Linked DNA regions of Homo sapiens. The protein of the gene in region 1 purifies or fractionates together with the protein of each later gene. This does not show direct contact. Each region holds a gene or a part of one and is shown in the gene's direction. Other genes may lie near its edges.

Region 1 (8,519 bases):
CCTGGGTTATAGGGATATGAATCCTGGAAGCTCTCCACTGACTGCACCAGGGTGACTGTCAGGACAGTGCCTCAAATCTGTTCCCTCTTCCAAGGCTCTCAGGATGCTTTCTAGAGAGCTGGCTCTCTGACTTGGTGGTTCTTGAACTTGGATGTGCATGAAAAATCACCTGAAATGCTGGTTTATAGACATTTCTGGGGCCTCATTCCAAGGAAGCTCCATTTTATTTTTTATTTTATTTTTATTTTTGAGACTTAGTCTTGCTCTATTGCCCAGGCTGGAGTGCAGTGGCATAAGCTTGGCTCACTGCAACCTCTGCTTCCTGGGTTCAAGTGATTTTCATGCCTCAGCCTCCCGAGTAGCTGGGATTACAGGTGCTCACCACCATGCCCGGCTAATTTTTATATTTTTAGTAGAGATGGTGTTTCATCATGTTGGCCAGGCTGGGCTTGAACTCCTGATCTCAAGTGATCCGCCTGCCTTGTCCTCCGAAAGTGCTGAGATTACAGGCATGAGCCACTTCGCCCAGCCAGGAGGCTTCATTTTAAACCAACTCTGGGGCTTAGTTACTGAGAAAGCCTTGCAGTAGCTGAATTGCGAGTTCTCTGAGGCCCTGAGCCAAGAAGTCCTTTCATGGTGTTTTATAGCTCTTACCATTTTCTCTCTGAAGAAATCTGTGTCCACGTTGATATATTTGGAATTACTTATTGATCTGATTAAGAGTTACAAGTCATTTCCAAAAAAGTTGGAAAATCTAGATGAATAAAGAATAAAAATAATCTCTATTTCTACGCCTGTAAATATGTCCATTTATATCCCTCCAGCCATCTTCTTTGTAAATATTTTGAACAAAAAGGATCCCGCTCTATGGCTGATTTTTATTTAATTTATTTATTGAGACAGGGGCCCACCCTGTCACCCAGGCCATAGTGCAGTGACACAATCATGGCTCACTGCAGCCTCAACCTCCTGGTGTCAAGCAATCCTTCTACCTCAGCCTCCTGAGTAGCTTGGGACCACAGGTGTGCACTGCCACGCCTGGCGAATTTTTAAATTTTTTTGCAGAGATGGGGTCTCACCATGTTGCGCAGGCTGGTCGTGAACTCCTGGGCTCAAGTGATCCTCCAGCCTCGGCCTCTTAACATGCTAGGATTACAGGCATGGTTGATTTTTATAGTCTTTTTTCACCTAAAATGTAATATGCAGTGATTCTATAGCTCTCCCCCAATTTCATCTCTGTGTCCTGAAAGTGACCAGTTTAGTCCTTGTCACAGTAGAGCCCCCAGTAATTAATCTTAGCAATAAAATTCTATAACTGTGGGATGGAACAGTGTGTCAATTGCGTTTTCGGAGAAACCTATGTCCAATTTGCACACAGAACGCCCACAGACCTCTGCTTACTAGCTTGGCTGGAAGGACAGGGTCTGCTGTAAGGACAGCAACCTTACCTAGGGCTTTTCCAGAGGCCTGAGAGGTCCTGCCAAGGCCCTGGGCTCAGGGGTCCAAGGTGGGAGAGGGCGAGAGAAAACAACGTGCTAATGCAGCCTTGAGTGGCTCTCAAACAGGAGCAGAGGGAAGGCTGTGAGGGGAGTTGGCTGCTCTCTTTGGAGTCAGAAAGGTTGTTGCTCAACTCTTTGGATTTTCCATCACAGCTGGGCAGGGAGAGGGTCAGACTGGGCATGACTTCTCCGAACAGGTCCTTTTAAAGCCTCTTGGCTGAACTGATTTCCTCTCCAGAGCCAAGGAAGCAGTGCCTGGGTGAAGTTAACCCCTTCACCCCCAACACATTCTTCCAGAGCTAGGTGAGCCTGGAAGCCTAGGCTCCTGGAAGGCAGAGCTACACAGGGCAAGAGGCCTAAGGAGCCGTGAACTCTGGCTGGAGAAACCTTCCCTCTGGCCTTGTTAAATCCAACAGGCATAATTGCATCCTGCTGACCTTAATTCCCCTGGCGGGTTTAATTGGTCTTGGCATTGCCCCACTTCCTGTCCTGCCCCTGTAGAGGCAAAGAGGGTGTCTGCACAGCTGGTGCAGGGCGGGGAAGCCCCTTCTTGAGGGTGGGCAGGGGCTCTGGCAGCCCCTAGGTGGGTGGAGGAAGTTTCCCCGTGCCCCACCCCTGTGCCTCCAAGGGAGTGCTGAGAAGCTTGGGGACTCCCAGGGAGCAGCTGGCTGGAGCAGGCAGTCCCGTAGATTCGGAACCAGGCCAGACTCTCATCCCAGTGGGAGGCACTGCAGGGGAGCTGGCGGGAACAGATGAACCCTCTACCTGGGGTGTCCACGACATTATCAGGCCCCCACAGTGCTGTAGGTACTGTGCCATTGGGCACTCTTTACATGTGTGCTGGCTAAATGCTCGCAGCCATGCTGTGAGAGGGAGGCAATGGGGCAGAGCAGTTATGAGCAGAGCCTTGGGTTAGATGGGTCCAATCCCAACTCTATGACTTTGCCCTGTGACTCAGTTTTCCTGTCACATCTGTGAAATGGGGATTAAAGAGCTGACATTTATACAGCACTCGCTATGCTCACACTCACTGTTGTAATGCTTTATCTACCTCCTGGGAGGCAGATGCTCTCCTTACGGATGAGGAAACAGGTGAAGACATTGTTCCAAGCTCACAGTTACTGGTCGCAGCGCTTCATTGACAGATCTCCTAATCACTGCATGGTAGGGAGTTGTAAGACTCGAAGGAAGGATACTCATGAAGCTGCTTACCCCAGGGCCTGGTCCATTTTAGAAAGAGTTCAATAAGAGTAATTATTTGGGAATAATAATTATAACAAAAGTAGCACTAATGCCCCTGAAGTTGTCCCAGGCTGGATTTTGGTCTCATTGGGAGGTGGCTCTGGATTTGAATGTGGGTAGTTTGAAGCCATTCACTAGCTGAGTGACTGTGGGGACAAGCCACTTCCCTCTGTGAGCATCAGTTTCCACACCTTTAAAATGGTGTAACATTGGCCCCTACAGTCCCTTCTGAGGATCCAGGGAGCTGGATCTTTGGCATAGTCTGGCCTGGCCGTTGGTGGGCACTCAATAAATGACTGGTATTGATAACCACAATAATAACAAGGAGATGCCAGCAAGGTCCAGCATAGGGAGGTAACAAACTCCAGTCTGGAGCCTTCTGGTTAATCAGTTATTTACTCATCAGACACTGATGGGCAAGTCCACTCTGTGCTGGGGATGTGTTTAGCCCCTGGCCTTCAGGGGGCTCCCAGACAGTGTCAACCAATGGTGGGATCAGCTGGGGCACTGTGGGGAGGCCAGAAGCAGGGGACCCAACATTCCAAATTAAACTAAAACATGCTCTGGGCCAGATAGAGGGCCAGGAGGTCCTAATGATCCGCATTAGGACAGGAAACATTTCAACCTTTTGAATGCTGCAAGATCCACAAAGGGGTTACTCAGCAGGGAGAAGGGGGCAAGGCACAGGCTGGGACATTTTAGGAAGGGAAGAGGGCTTTGGAGTTTGAAGAACGACATTCCAAGCTCAACTCCCTTCCTTGCTGAGTGACTTTGGGCAAGCTACTGATTCCTTTAACTCTCCTCGTCCTCATGCAGAAAATGAGATGAGCGCTCCCCACAGAGTTATCATCAAGATGATGCTTAAAGGCAAGATGGCTAAAACGAATGACAGGTGCTCAGCAAGTGGAAGCTCCCTTTCTGCAGGGGACCTGGGTTCAGAGCTCAGTTCAGCCCCTTCCAAGCTGTGACTTTGAGTAAATTACATAACCTCTCCATGCCTTGGTTTCCCCATCTCTCTAGTACCTACCGCACTGGGTTCTTCTGAAGACCATTTGGGTGGATCAACATGAGAGCATGCAGAGCGAGGCCAGGCACGTGGTCAGTACCGTATAGGCATCAGCTGTTACTTTTGCTTCCTGGAAGAGGCAGACTGTTAACTGGACCTTAAAGAAGAGAAATGGAGGAGAGGAGGACCGGGCCTGGAGAGGAGGGCCAGGCAGAGCAAAAGTAGTCAAGACTGGGGAAAGAGCTCCAACTATGGTTTTTACCAGCTTATACCAAAAACCCTTGACATTTGCTCACAAAACAAAACATCCCACTCATTTTGAATAGTAGCCTGTTCACATAGTTCATGGTTCAAACAGAAAAGTCAAAGTATATACAGTGATGTCTCCTTCCCACCCTTGGGGCCCAGTTCCTTGCTTATCCTACCAAATAAATTCTTATGTGCATAAAGTGAAATATATATTATTCATATATTATTCTCCCTTTTTTTTTTGCACAAATGGATAGCACACTCTACATGCTACTTTGCATCTTGCTTTTTTTATTCCCCCCACTTTGGTGGTCACTTTTTGTCAGTTCATTAACAGCTTCCTCAATCTTTTTTTACAGGTTCCTATTTCCCCACTGCTTAGAGGGGCTGCATTCTCCCTCCTTTCTCTCATCAAGCGTTTTTCCAATGGCTTCCCATTTGACAGAGGAGCCGAGGCCATGGAGTGAAGTGACTGGTTTGCTGCAGTCAGGACCTGAACCTGGATAACCACTCTACAGCTACTTCATTTTATCTTACTTTTTAAAATATAAAGACGGGGTCTTGTTATGTTGCCCAGGCCAGTCTCCAACTCCTGGCCTCGAGTGATCCTCCTGCCTCAGCTTCCCAAAGTGTTGGGATTACAGGTGTGAACCACTGCTTCTGGCCTCTACAGCTACTTCTAATGCACCCAGGTCTGGCCAGTTCTCAAGAGCCCCCTCTGAGAAAGGCTCTGGGTGATGGAAGGCTCCTTGGATCATAGCTGTCCTCATCCTATCTCGAACACCTCAGGCTAGAGTGCCCCTCGGGCCACCCCTGTAGTGGAGCATCCTTGAAAAGACTCTCTGCCAGCCCCCTTCTTCCATGTGGGTCATGGGTGAGAACTGGATGAGCTTGGGGGAGGGGCACAGAGCACTCTCCATCTCCCATGGCTACTCAGGGCAGCCTCCGTGTCCCCAGGAGCCCAAGAAAAGGACAGTTTCAAAAGAAAAAGCTTCCAGGCCTATGGACATGTTGAGAAAGTGCCCCCGAGACAATTTCTTACCCAAAGGTGACGCAAGCAGGTCCAGATGTCGAGGCACAGAGCTAGGCACTAGGGTCAGGGAGATTATCCCTGGGACTTTGTGGCTCTAGCCAGGTTCTGGGGAGCCCCAGGAGATGTGGCACACAGGTGGGCAGACCAGGGCTCAGCCTGGGCATACTCTTGCCCTTCAGGCCTGCCTGAGTACTCCCCTTCTTCCAGGCCCCCTCTGATCCTGTCCAAGTCAGGGATACTGAGCAAGGCCTGGGGAAAGGGCTGCTCCCCCAGCGTCCCAGATACCCCTCCCTTTTCTCGCTTGTTCCAACATCATTCTCCCCCCAGTCGGGCCATGGGAAGAATGCCGTGTCCTCTGAACTGGGGCCAAGAGTGACAGGTGGCGGCAGTCCCAGCTGCATGGCCCCTGGTGTAAGAGATCCTCTCCTCCGTCCCCGCCTCCACTGCCCACACCCCTGCCTCCGCCTCTGCCCACCCGGCCCAATCCCTTACAACTGCCCAGGACTGCTCCTGAGCAGCCGCTGGGAGACAGACGGCAACCAGGTTGCCCCTCTTTGCTCCAGGTACCTCTCTCCCCTCAGTTAGCAGGCCTCGGCTTCCTGTCTCACTGCAGCCAGACGAGAGGGGAAATTGGACAGCCTGACACACTCCACTCTTGTTTCTGCAGCTAGAAAGACTTGAGTTAGACAAGCAGCAGCACACGCCTCCCTACCTCATGGCGACAGAAAATGGAGCAGTTGAGCTGGGAATTCAGAACCCATCAACAGGTGCCAAGCTGGGGCAGGAGATGGAGGGAGGAGCTTGGGAAGGGGGGTTTTGAATCCAGGACTGGGCAGGTTCCTCAGTGGGAGTTCTGTGCCCCAGCCTTGTTTGCATGGTGCACGGGGGACCCAGAAATCAGAGGAATCTCTGGCTAGGGTTGGGCTGGGTCCAGGGCCTGTATGAAGCCCTTCCTGGAGAGACCAGGAAAATGTGAAGCCACCAGGGATGGCTGCTGGGGATGCACCTAAACAGTCAGGGCAAGGATGATGGGGGCCACCAAGGCCCACCCAAAGGGCTGGAAGCCTCCCACAGAGGCCCTCCAAGGTCGTGGCAGCTCATCTCTAGGGGCCATCAAGTGGCCCCAGAGACTCAGTGGGACAAGCATTTGCAAGTTGTTGCCTGGGTGGGAACCTGGGCCCAGAGCTGGTCTCTGCCCAGCCTGGGTGAGAGGGAAGGAAAGGAGGGTGGATCCTGATGGGTGTCTCACCTCCTCTGCAGACAAGGCACCTAAAGGTCCCACAGGTGAAAGACCCCTGGCTGCAGGGAAAGACCCTGGCCCCCCAGACCCAAAGAAAGCTCCGGATCCACCCACCCTGAAGAAAGATGCCAAAGCCCCTGCCTCAGAGAAAGGGGATGGTACCCTGGCCCAACCCTCAACTAGCAGCCAAGGCCCCAAAGGAGAGGGTGACAGGGGCGGGGGGCCCGCGGAGGGCAGTGCTGGGCCCCCGGCAGCCCTGCCCCAGCAGACTGCGACACCTGAGACCAGCGTCAAGAAGCCCAAGGCTGAGCAGGGAGCCTCAGGCAGCCAGGATCCTGGAAAGCCCAGGGTGGGCAAGAAGGCAGCAGAGGGCCAAGCAGCAGCCAGGAGGGGCTCACCTGCCTTTCTGCATAGCCCCAGCTGTCCTGCCATCATCTCCAGGTGAATATCCCCTCCTGGGAGTGGGGAGGGGTCCTGTGGTTCTGTCCCTAGGGGTCCTGCTTAATTCCCTTGTCTTAGGCATGGTTATCATCACATTCAGTGCTGGGGAGTGTAGTTCTGACATTCAGTTTCCTCTGTCCTGTGAATTGCCTCTACCGCCTTGTCCCCTGCAGAAACCAGAACCCTGCCACAATTCATACAAGACTGGAGTAAGAGAGACCCTCAAAGACTGCCTAGGTTGAACATATCTTCTCTAGGCTTCTGGGGTCCGAAGTTCCCCTTACTCCATGGGCTTGGGTCTAGCCAAGGGCAGGGTTGAGATGGCAGGCAGAAAGGCTAAAGGTGTCAGGCAAAAGGCTGTGTATTTCCTAGGACATCCAGTATTTTCCTGTTCTTCTTAATATAATTATTGGTAAGATATGAAAAGATGACTAATAACCAGATTGGAGGATCATTGATAATATTTTCATAACCATAATATAGCACATGTGTGATGCCATCAGTTATACTTACCTGAATGCTAATGAGGTCATTAATGATATATTGTAAGCCACAATAAGAACATTTACCATATCACTTTGATAATTATGTATCAATTATATCACAACAGATTTTATGAATCAAGAGCTACATAACTCCCTAGTTGTATCCACATGATGATTAACCATATCAACAATCCTATTAATAGTTATTAATGATGTATTAGTGTGTTGGTAGTCAAGATAATGACCACAGCCATGAACATCCCTTAATTTTGTACCAGGTGAATTTGGCTGTATTACACCATGCATTTGGGGTGGGGTTGGATTAGCTCTGCAGATTGCATTGAGACTTGCCTGATGCCACAGGCTGTGGCCGCTGAGGGCTTCACCTCTGTGTTCTCACCTTCTAGTTCTGAGAAGCTGCTGGCCAAGAAGCCCCCAAGCGAGGCATCAGAGCTCACCTTTGAAGGGGTGCCCATGACCCACAGCCCCACGGATCCCAGGCCAGCCAAGGCAGAAGAAGGAAAGAACATCCTGGCAGAGAGCCAGAAGGAAGTGGGAGAGAAAACCCCAGGCCAGGCTGGCCAGGCTAAGATGCAAGGGGACACCTCGAGGGGGATTGAGTTCCAGGCTGTTCCCTCAGAGAAATCCGAGGTGGGGCAGGCCCTCTGTCTCACAGCCAGGGAGGAGGACTGCTTCCAGATTTTGGGTAGGCCAGGGGCAGGTGGGGGCTGGGGCTGCCCTGGGGCCAGGGGGAGGGAAGGGGGCTGTCAGTCCCAAGTCTACCTATTCGGAGGTCTGAACTGCCCTGAGCCAAGCCTTACCCAGGCCCATTCATCTAAGGGTCACACAACTCCAGAAAGTATTCCTTTTTTAACGTATGTTTATTCATTTGTTTATTTGTTTTAAAAGATAGGGTCTTGCTACGTTGCCCAGGCTGGCTTCAAACTCCCAGCCTCAAGTGATCCTCCCACCTTGGCCTCCCGAGTAGCTGGGACTACAGGCGTGTACAACCATACCTGGCTTTCTTCAATCTTATTTTTTAAGATGTATTTTTATTTTTAAATTTAGTATTCCCTTTTGATAGATGGGGAAAGGAAGGCTCAGAAAAAGGAAAATGAAGTGCCCAAACATATCCAGTGAAGACAGGATTTGAACCTGTCAGGCCACCCAGACTCCAGAACCCACTTTTGAGTTTTTTCTACTTTGACTAAAATGAAGTTAAAAAAAAGAAAAATCAGGCAGATTATTGGAGCAACACAAACTCCCTGGGCAATGGAATTTGGAGTCAATCTGTAGAAGGGCTCAAATGCCAGGCTTAGTAGCT
Region 2 (7,600 bases), on another chromosome or scaffold:
ACACCATGGAATACTATGCAGCCATAAAAAAGGATGAGTTCATGTCCTTTGTAGGGACATGGATGAAGCTGGAAACCATCATTCTCAGCAAACTATTGCAAGGAAAGAAAACCAAACACTGCATGTTCTCACTCATAGGTGGCAATTGAACAATGAGAATGCTTGGACACAGGAAGGGGAACATCACACACACTGGGGCCTGTCGTGGGATCGGGGGAAGGGGGGAGGGACAACATTAGGAGATATACCTAATGTAAATGACGAGTTAATGGGTGCAGCACACCAACACGGCACATGTATACATATGTAACAAACCTGCACATTGTGCACATGTACCCTAGAACTTAAAGTATAATAATAATAATAAAAAGAAATTGGTTCTGCTCTTAAAAAACAAAGATTTACCACTGTGTATCACAGTCCAGCCTAAAACTTGAACAAAATTGATTTCTTTTAATAGCGTTCTGTATTACTTCACAGGGAAAGGTATTAAAGTCAGATTCTATAATTCTTTAAAGATAACTTCTGGGTATCATTGGATTGTGTGCTTACCAGGTTTTCCCACATATACGTTAAATTTAAATCCTTAGTTCCGAGTTAATTTTCACTACCTAACTGATAAAAAATTATCTGGGCATGTACTGAAGAATGAATTTTTGCAGCTTAGTGAGATAAGTCATTCATACTTTAACAAGAATATTTTAAACAGAGCTGGTTATTCCTGCAGGGAAACCATATTCAGATCAAACTAATTTCTTAAATGACATAAAAGGAGTGAGCAGCTTTGAGGTGTCTTATGTAACTAAGTGCTGACGGCTTGGGACTAGATGATAGAATGACAGAGGAAAGGGAAGCTGAATCTTTGAAATGGTAAAATTATAATTTAAGAATCACAGTAAATATCACCTGCCAGGTATTAAAATGATTAAAGAGCTTATTTTTTCCACACTGCTATTGTGATAGGTTTTATAAACAAATAATTTTAAGTACACTAACCTTTTAAGCACCAGTAATTAGCTGAGAAAAACAAACACAAATGTTCTTGAAGAGAGAGCAAACCCTGAGGGAATTCAGTCCTCTGAAATTATGCTAAGTATTACTGAAATAATTCTAGGTGGCTCCCACCCCTAAAAGAAATCCTTTTAAATTTTTCTCCTGTTTTCTAACATATATAACTTTTATGACAGCTAATTGACAGAATTATTTACTAATATAGGTGGATCTGCCTATGGATAAAACCTTCCAGGATATTTTGGGTTCTCACCAGAACTCAAAATACTGTCTACAATGCTTCTGAATGGAAAGGGCCCTGGATTGGCAGACAGTGGCTTTGCTACCAAATAGTTATAGTTTTGTCACCTCCCTTCTTTGGAGTTTAGTTTCCTAGTCTGTTGAATACAGAAATGAGATTTAATGATCTCCAAGGTCCGTCCTGACAACTCTTAAGTTCCACAATTGAGTTTGAACACTTTTACACAAAGATGACTTCAACATTTAATCCCTGAAATAAACTAAACATATGTAGAAACCAGTAATGTAGGGATAGGATAATATTTTTTAATATCTCCCAATAGGTGTTCCATTATTGTTAAACTGGGTTCTCTCTTGAGCACTTCATCAGCTATCACGGCTCCAAGAAAGGGAGCAGAAGAAATGCCAAATCTCAAAAATGAAGAGGATACGGTACAGAAGGAAAGTTCCTGACAAATGGGAAGGAGAAAAATCCATTCCTTAAAAACCCTGGGGCATGATGGAAAGAAGAAAAGGGTACAAGGAAGAGGTTAATCAGACTCAGTGTGCTTACTTTCCATCCCCTCTCAGGGTGGAAACTAGAATTGAGGGTATGTAGTTGACATATGCACAGAGACATAGGGAAATCCAAGAAAGTTGGAGATAGTGGTTTGCGTCCCTGGACATGTCTGTGAAACACTAAGACGTCTAGGAGTTCTACTTTCAGCCTGCCAGCATGTTCAATATGACATAAGGAGAAAAATGCAACATTGTTGGATAGTGGCTCAACAACTAGTAAGCCCAAAGCAAGGCTCCTGGCTCATCAAGGCCTACACGTGGTATTCGGGGAATCCAGAAGTACCCATGTGTCTCAGTGAGAACCATGAGGATCAAGGGACCTGTGGAGACTCGGGGTCAGTACAAAGAGGTTATAGTGTATGGGGCAAATGGCTCATGTATGGATTTCAGCAAAAGAAATCAGCCTCAAAAGTACAGAAATGACCAGTTTTATGAGTAATAAATGATAAACGACAGTGGCTGCCATCAGACAATACTAGCCACTCCACGCCAGAAGACAACATAAGGACTGGCATTAGTGGCTTAGATGCCCTTGTAAACCTCCCTATTCCTCAGGGATGCTACCACCCTACCAGTTACTCTGTGAATTTGAAAAAGGTGCTTCCTTTCTCAAGACACTTTACTACCATCTATCAGGAAATTGTCATAATATACTAATTTTGCTAAAACAAGGCATTTTACTGCCATATGTCAGAGAATTGTTGCAATAAACTTAGAAATCTAGGGTATGTAAAAGATACCCCTTATACCACATATAACAACCCTAAACCCCGCCCCTCCCATTAATATATTAGAAGGAGAGTTGGGGAAATAAAAGGTGAAAGCAGTTATGTTTTTTAAAAAATTGAGATGATGTGGGGACTTGAAGTTAAAATTACAGAAAATAAACAAGCTACATTTTCTTTACATCTGAATTAATGTAAGTAAAACTTCCACTCTGCCACACCAAAATACAAACTCTTTATGCCCAATATTTTCCTTTTATTAGTATTTCCCATAACACCTTATATACATATTAATGCATACACGGAAGGAGCCAAAAAGTACTTGTCAAATAAAAAAGTAAATTTTTAGAAAAATCAGAAATGATGGACACACTTATATGTATAACGTAATTTTCCTGTACTTTTACTTTTCCCCTATGTTTATTTGAACAAACCTAAAATTGTACCCATTTGCACCTAGCTAACCACCATAAAAATTTGGAGTTCTCCAGCTGTTTTGTAACAGCTGTCCTCCTCAAATATTTTTTTGAGAAACAAACATAGACCTACGTTTCTCTATTTTTCTGGACTAAAGAGAGATCATCTCAAAATCACAGAACTCTTAAAAATTGAAAACAGGATCATGTAGTCTAAAATAAGTTCTTATTTAAACTTGGGAGGTGAGGGGGGCGGGGCTGACATCTAGAAAGGTGAAGTACTTTGCCTGTAGTCACACACCAAGTCTGGGACTCAACACACAGGCTCGCCTCTTTGCGTCTCTCCCTCCTTCCAAAATACATTTTCCTCCCTCTCAAAAGCTTTATCACGCTTTGTAGTTGCTTAATTATCTATGTCAAACCTAGAGAGCAACTGATGACACTCAGAGACATCGCCCAAAGTTCTGAAAACCAGATAATCAGATAAACTGCCAGTTTTACCACATCCAAAAAATGCACAACAAAAGAGAGAAGGGGGAGAATCGAGAATACATTTTCAGCCGCAAGGCAATAAAAACACGTTTCCCTTGGAGAGAGATTATGTTGGGGGCATCAGGTATAAAGGTAATTCCTGTTGAGGGTTTTTCTTTTCCTTGCAGTTTGTGGGACCTAAAAAAAAAAAATTAAAAATTAAATCACATAAACAATCACAACATCAACACATTTACTTCTCTCCTCTCACATATTATTTTCCCACACATTGTATACACTTCTTCAAAGAACAAATCAAATTGGCCAAAGGTCAAAGCCTTTTCAAGGTTTAGATGATATACGATTAGGCACCGACTCCAAACTTCGCTTACCAAGCCCAAAGCTCGGAGACGGAAATCTTCAGGGTTTGCAAATACCCTCAGCTTGGCTAAAGGGCACGAAATCTCTAGCGCTCCCTACAGCTCAGATTTTGAACCCACCTACCACAGAAAACCCGAGTTACCAAAGATTGGCTCCCTCGTTCCACTTTTTTTTCAGCTCAAAAAAATCGGGTGAAGGTTGGGGTAGGGGGGAAGCTGAAACGGCGAACCGAAGGATTAATCACTTCTCCCCATTACATCAGCAACCCCCGCCCTTTCCTCCGAGCACCTCCTCTCCCAGAATCGTCGCTACGCACTGGCGCTCTCTTCGCCCACCCCCTGCTCTATTATTTGCCCTGATACCTCCCCATTATCACCCGCCCCGCCACACTCCCCCTTTCCTCTTTCCCCCTCCTAGGCGGGGGAGGGAGGAAACCCGAGAGAGGAAACAGGGCGTTGAAGGGACTTCGCGATAAGAGCGGAGGCCCCATTGGCCGGAAGGTTGTACGGGCGCCTTAGATTGGCCGCCTGGACGGAATCCCCGCCCCTCCTTTCCCCGCCCACCCACCCCTCCCCCCGCCGCCCCGCGGCCCTCCCCCGCGCCCCCGGCCAGCCCCGCGGCGGGGAGGGACCGACTGGGCGAGTGGAGGCTCCGGCGGTGTCAATGGCTCCTCCTGCCACGGAGCAGCAGCAGAAGCAGCGGCGACAGGGCTGACGAGGAGGAGGAGGAAAGGTTCCTTTAAGGAGGAGGAAGGACGACGCCTCTTTTTCCCCCTATCTCCTCCCTTCACACTCATTTCCCCTTCGCCGAGGAGAGAAGGGGGGGAGGAGAGAGAAGAGACCGAAGAAAGAGAGAAAAATTCCTCACAGAAATCTCTTTCAGGGGGTGTGGGGGGGAGGAAGAGGGAAAAAAAAGAGCCGGGCGCCCCCTGCTCCCTCCCTCCCTTCTCTCCCTCTCTTTTTCTCCCTTCCTCACCCGCCCGCCCACTCCCCCCGCTGCCGGAGACGCCGCTCGCGAGTCGGCGGGACCGGGATCTGTCTCTTCAGCCGCCGCCGCCGCCGCCGCCGCGCTTCGCCTCGGGATCCCCAAGCGGCGGACGCCCTTTCTTTCTTTCTCTCGGTCTGCCCGTCTTTCTGCCTTCGTCCCTCGCGGCCGCCCCGCCCGGCGGCTTCGGCCTTCCCCGTGCGTCAGGCCCTCCCGGCCGGCCTCGCTCGGTCTCCGTCTGTCTACCCGGGCCTTTCTCCGGACTCGGGGTCCCGCTCGCCCCCTCCGCCCTCAGCGTCTCCCCTTCCCCTCGCCCCCTCTCCTTCCTCCCCCCTCTCCCACTCTCCCCACCCCTTTCTCCTGCCCCGAAGCTCGCTGTGCGTGTGCGTGTGTGTGTCCCTCCGCCAACGCCGCCACCTCAGCCCGGCAAATGAACTCCGTCCGAGCCGCCAACCGGAGACCCAGGCGAGTGTCGCGGCCGCGCCCGGTGCAGCAACAGCAGCAGCAGCCCCCGCAGCAGCCGCCGCCGCAGCCGCCCCAGCAGCAGCCGCCCCAGCAGCAGCCTCCGCCGCCGCCGCAGCAGCAGCAGCAGCAGCAGCCTCCGCCGCCGCCACCGCCGCCTCCGCCGCTGCCTCAGGAGCGGAACAACGTCGGCGAGCGGGGTAAGGCCGCGCTACCTCCCAACCGCCCGCCTTCCCGGGCACCGCGGGAAGGGAGGCCGGGGCGGGCGGGCGGGCGGGCGGGCGGGGGCGGCCTGCGCGCCCTGGGGGTGGGAGACCCAAGCTGAGCGGAGGCGGGTCCCCCGGTGCCGCAGTGTCAGCCCGGGCCGGGCCCGGCCGGCAGGAAAAGCCGCGGCTTCCCTTCTCGCCTGGGCTCTCGCTCAGGCCGCGCTTTGTTTGGTTTCGGGGGCTCAGCACCCTCCACCCCCACCCATCCCTTTGGCTTCTCCGCTCGCTCACAGACCCCGCGGGAGTCTGTTGGTGGCCGGGGGGAAGGCGAGCGGCGTGATTTCTCCCTTTTCTGCCGCCTTCCATGGTTTAGTCTGCCTCTTTCTAGTGGTAGGTGGGGGGAGCGACTGGGAGCGATCGGGTGGTGGGGTTGGCTGGGGAACTTGTTTTCCCCCTCTTTTCTGTGTTAGCCTACCCCTTCCTGAGGAGGAGCGGGAGAGGGGAATCGGGGTGGTCTGTGGTGTTGGCAGGGGAACTTGTTTCCCCCGCCCCCCCGTCCCTGGTCACGGGGTAGGGGGAGCAGCGACTCCTCTCCCAACCCCACAGTGTTTGCTGCGCAGTTTGTCTTTAGTTACGAACCCCTGGGAAGGACCCATTAAATCAAGACCTTTAAATAAATAAATATAGAATCCATCGGCCATTTCCAGCCCCCTCCCTCGTGTGCAGTGCAGTTACCCTTCCGCTCTATCGACACCCCCTCGCCTGTCCTCCCCGAGCGACCCCCCATGCCGCGGTGCTACTCTCCGTCTCCTAGTGGGGTTTGAACGCCCCTTGCTTAGAACTGGCCCCTTGGGATATTTTGTGTGTGTGTGTGTGTGTGTGTGTGTGTGTGTGTGTGTGTTTGCGCGCGCGCGCGTGTGTGTGTTGTGTCCAAGGCCTAGTGAAATGTGTCATTTGGACCCAACTGTTTAGCACTGTCTGGTAACCACCATTGTCTAAGGGCTGAGGCTCCCCGAGGTTGAAATCCTGCTTTAGCAAAAATAATGTTCAGTTCTACTTGGATGATGTGGTTATTTTGGGAGGTTTATGAGGGGGGGTGTTGCACCTTGGTCTCCAAACATAACCATTCTCTTTATTAATTAGCTGTTCGCAGTAGTGGTAGAGGTCAGAACCGTATTTATGTGTACGGTTGTTGTTTTAAGGAGGAGGAGAATTGTTAGGAGACATTTTGCGTGTTTTAGTTGGCGGATTAAGGTTAATTTTACATGCGTTTGTTGTCACACCTCCATTGGTTAAAGGGATTGAGATTAAATGTTTTTTAAAATTATACATTATTTCCTTAAAAACGGTTTCATTGTTATACTTGATCACAATATTTAACAAATGAAGGAGGGAGATGTTAATCGGAAAATAGTTTAAAAGGCTTTCACCAGTCACTGTTAAAGGTAGTCTTAGAGAAAGCAGTTTGCTATATGTTGCTTGAAAGAATGTGATGTTTCAAGGCAGTTGGAGATCTTGTGCAACATAATTGGTAAAAGTGTTTTATTTCTTTGATACATTTACCATTTTGGGGGTAAATTTTAAAAATCTGTAGTCTCATTATTTCCTTTCACATATGTCTATCAGTGTTCTTCTGATGTTCCGTTCAAATAATGTTCTTCTTCCAGAATTGCCACTGTATGCAGTACAGCTGACAAATATGTTTGAGAAAACAATGACACTCGATTGAAATTCTAGCCTTTAATATTAAGGATTCTATTGCTACAGTAAGCTTTTTCAAGATGTGGTAATTGGTTAATAATATTAGCATTGGATCAAAACGTGTCAAACAATTTAGTCTCCTTGTGTATTTTAAAATGTTTACTCTGAATTTTCATTTCAAGGTTTGTGTGTAATTTCGAACTTAGTTGATGTAATTTTGTCTTGGACACTTTTATTCATTTGTTCAAAATTATTAGCTACTGAGGTCTATTTTCATTTCTATGTGAGGTAAGGTGACTTGGTTGTTGGCAGTCACATGCCAGTGTCAATTTTCTTCTCATTGATGTCTATAAACTGTCAATATTCATGAATCCAAATTTCAGTATGTACCCAACCAAATGGTAAATGAAATTTACTGTAGAATTGTTGCTTCTCTGCAGCTAGT

What was found.
Region 2: the proteins of MYLK2 (region 1) and FBXO11 purify together in Homo sapiens (affinity purification with mass spectrometry; 4 studies listed by BioGRID and IntAct, with this or other methods). This does not show direct contact.

What each region holds. Positions count from the first base shown.
Region 1 is NC_000020.11:31,813,837-31,822,355, forward strand, and holds the start of MYLK2 (myosin light chain kinase 2, skeletal/cardiac muscle), read left to right. Parts: upstream 1-5,519; 5' UTR 5,520-5,592; intron 5,593-5,696; 5' UTR 5,697-5,744; coding exon 5,745-5,796; intron 5,797-6,289; coding exon 6,290-6,710; intron 6,711-7,602; coding exon 7,603-7,901; intron 7,902-8,519. UniProt on the Homo sapiens protein: Implicated in the level of global muscle contraction and cardiac function. Phosphorylates a specific serine in the N-terminus of a myosin light chain.
Region 2 is NC_000002.12:47,903,337-47,910,936, reverse strand, and holds the start of FBXO11 (F-box only protein 11), read left to right. Parts: upstream 1-4,438; 5' UTR 4,439-5,216; coding exon 5,217-5,448; intron 5,449-5,598; exon of another isoform or gene 5,599-5,844; intron 5,845-7,600. UniProt on the Homo sapiens protein: Substrate recognition component of a SCF (SKP1-CUL1-F-box protein) E3 ubiquitin-protein ligase complex which mediates the ubiquitination and subsequent proteasomal degradation of target proteins, such as DTL/CDT2, BCL6, SNAI1 and PRDM1/BLIMP1.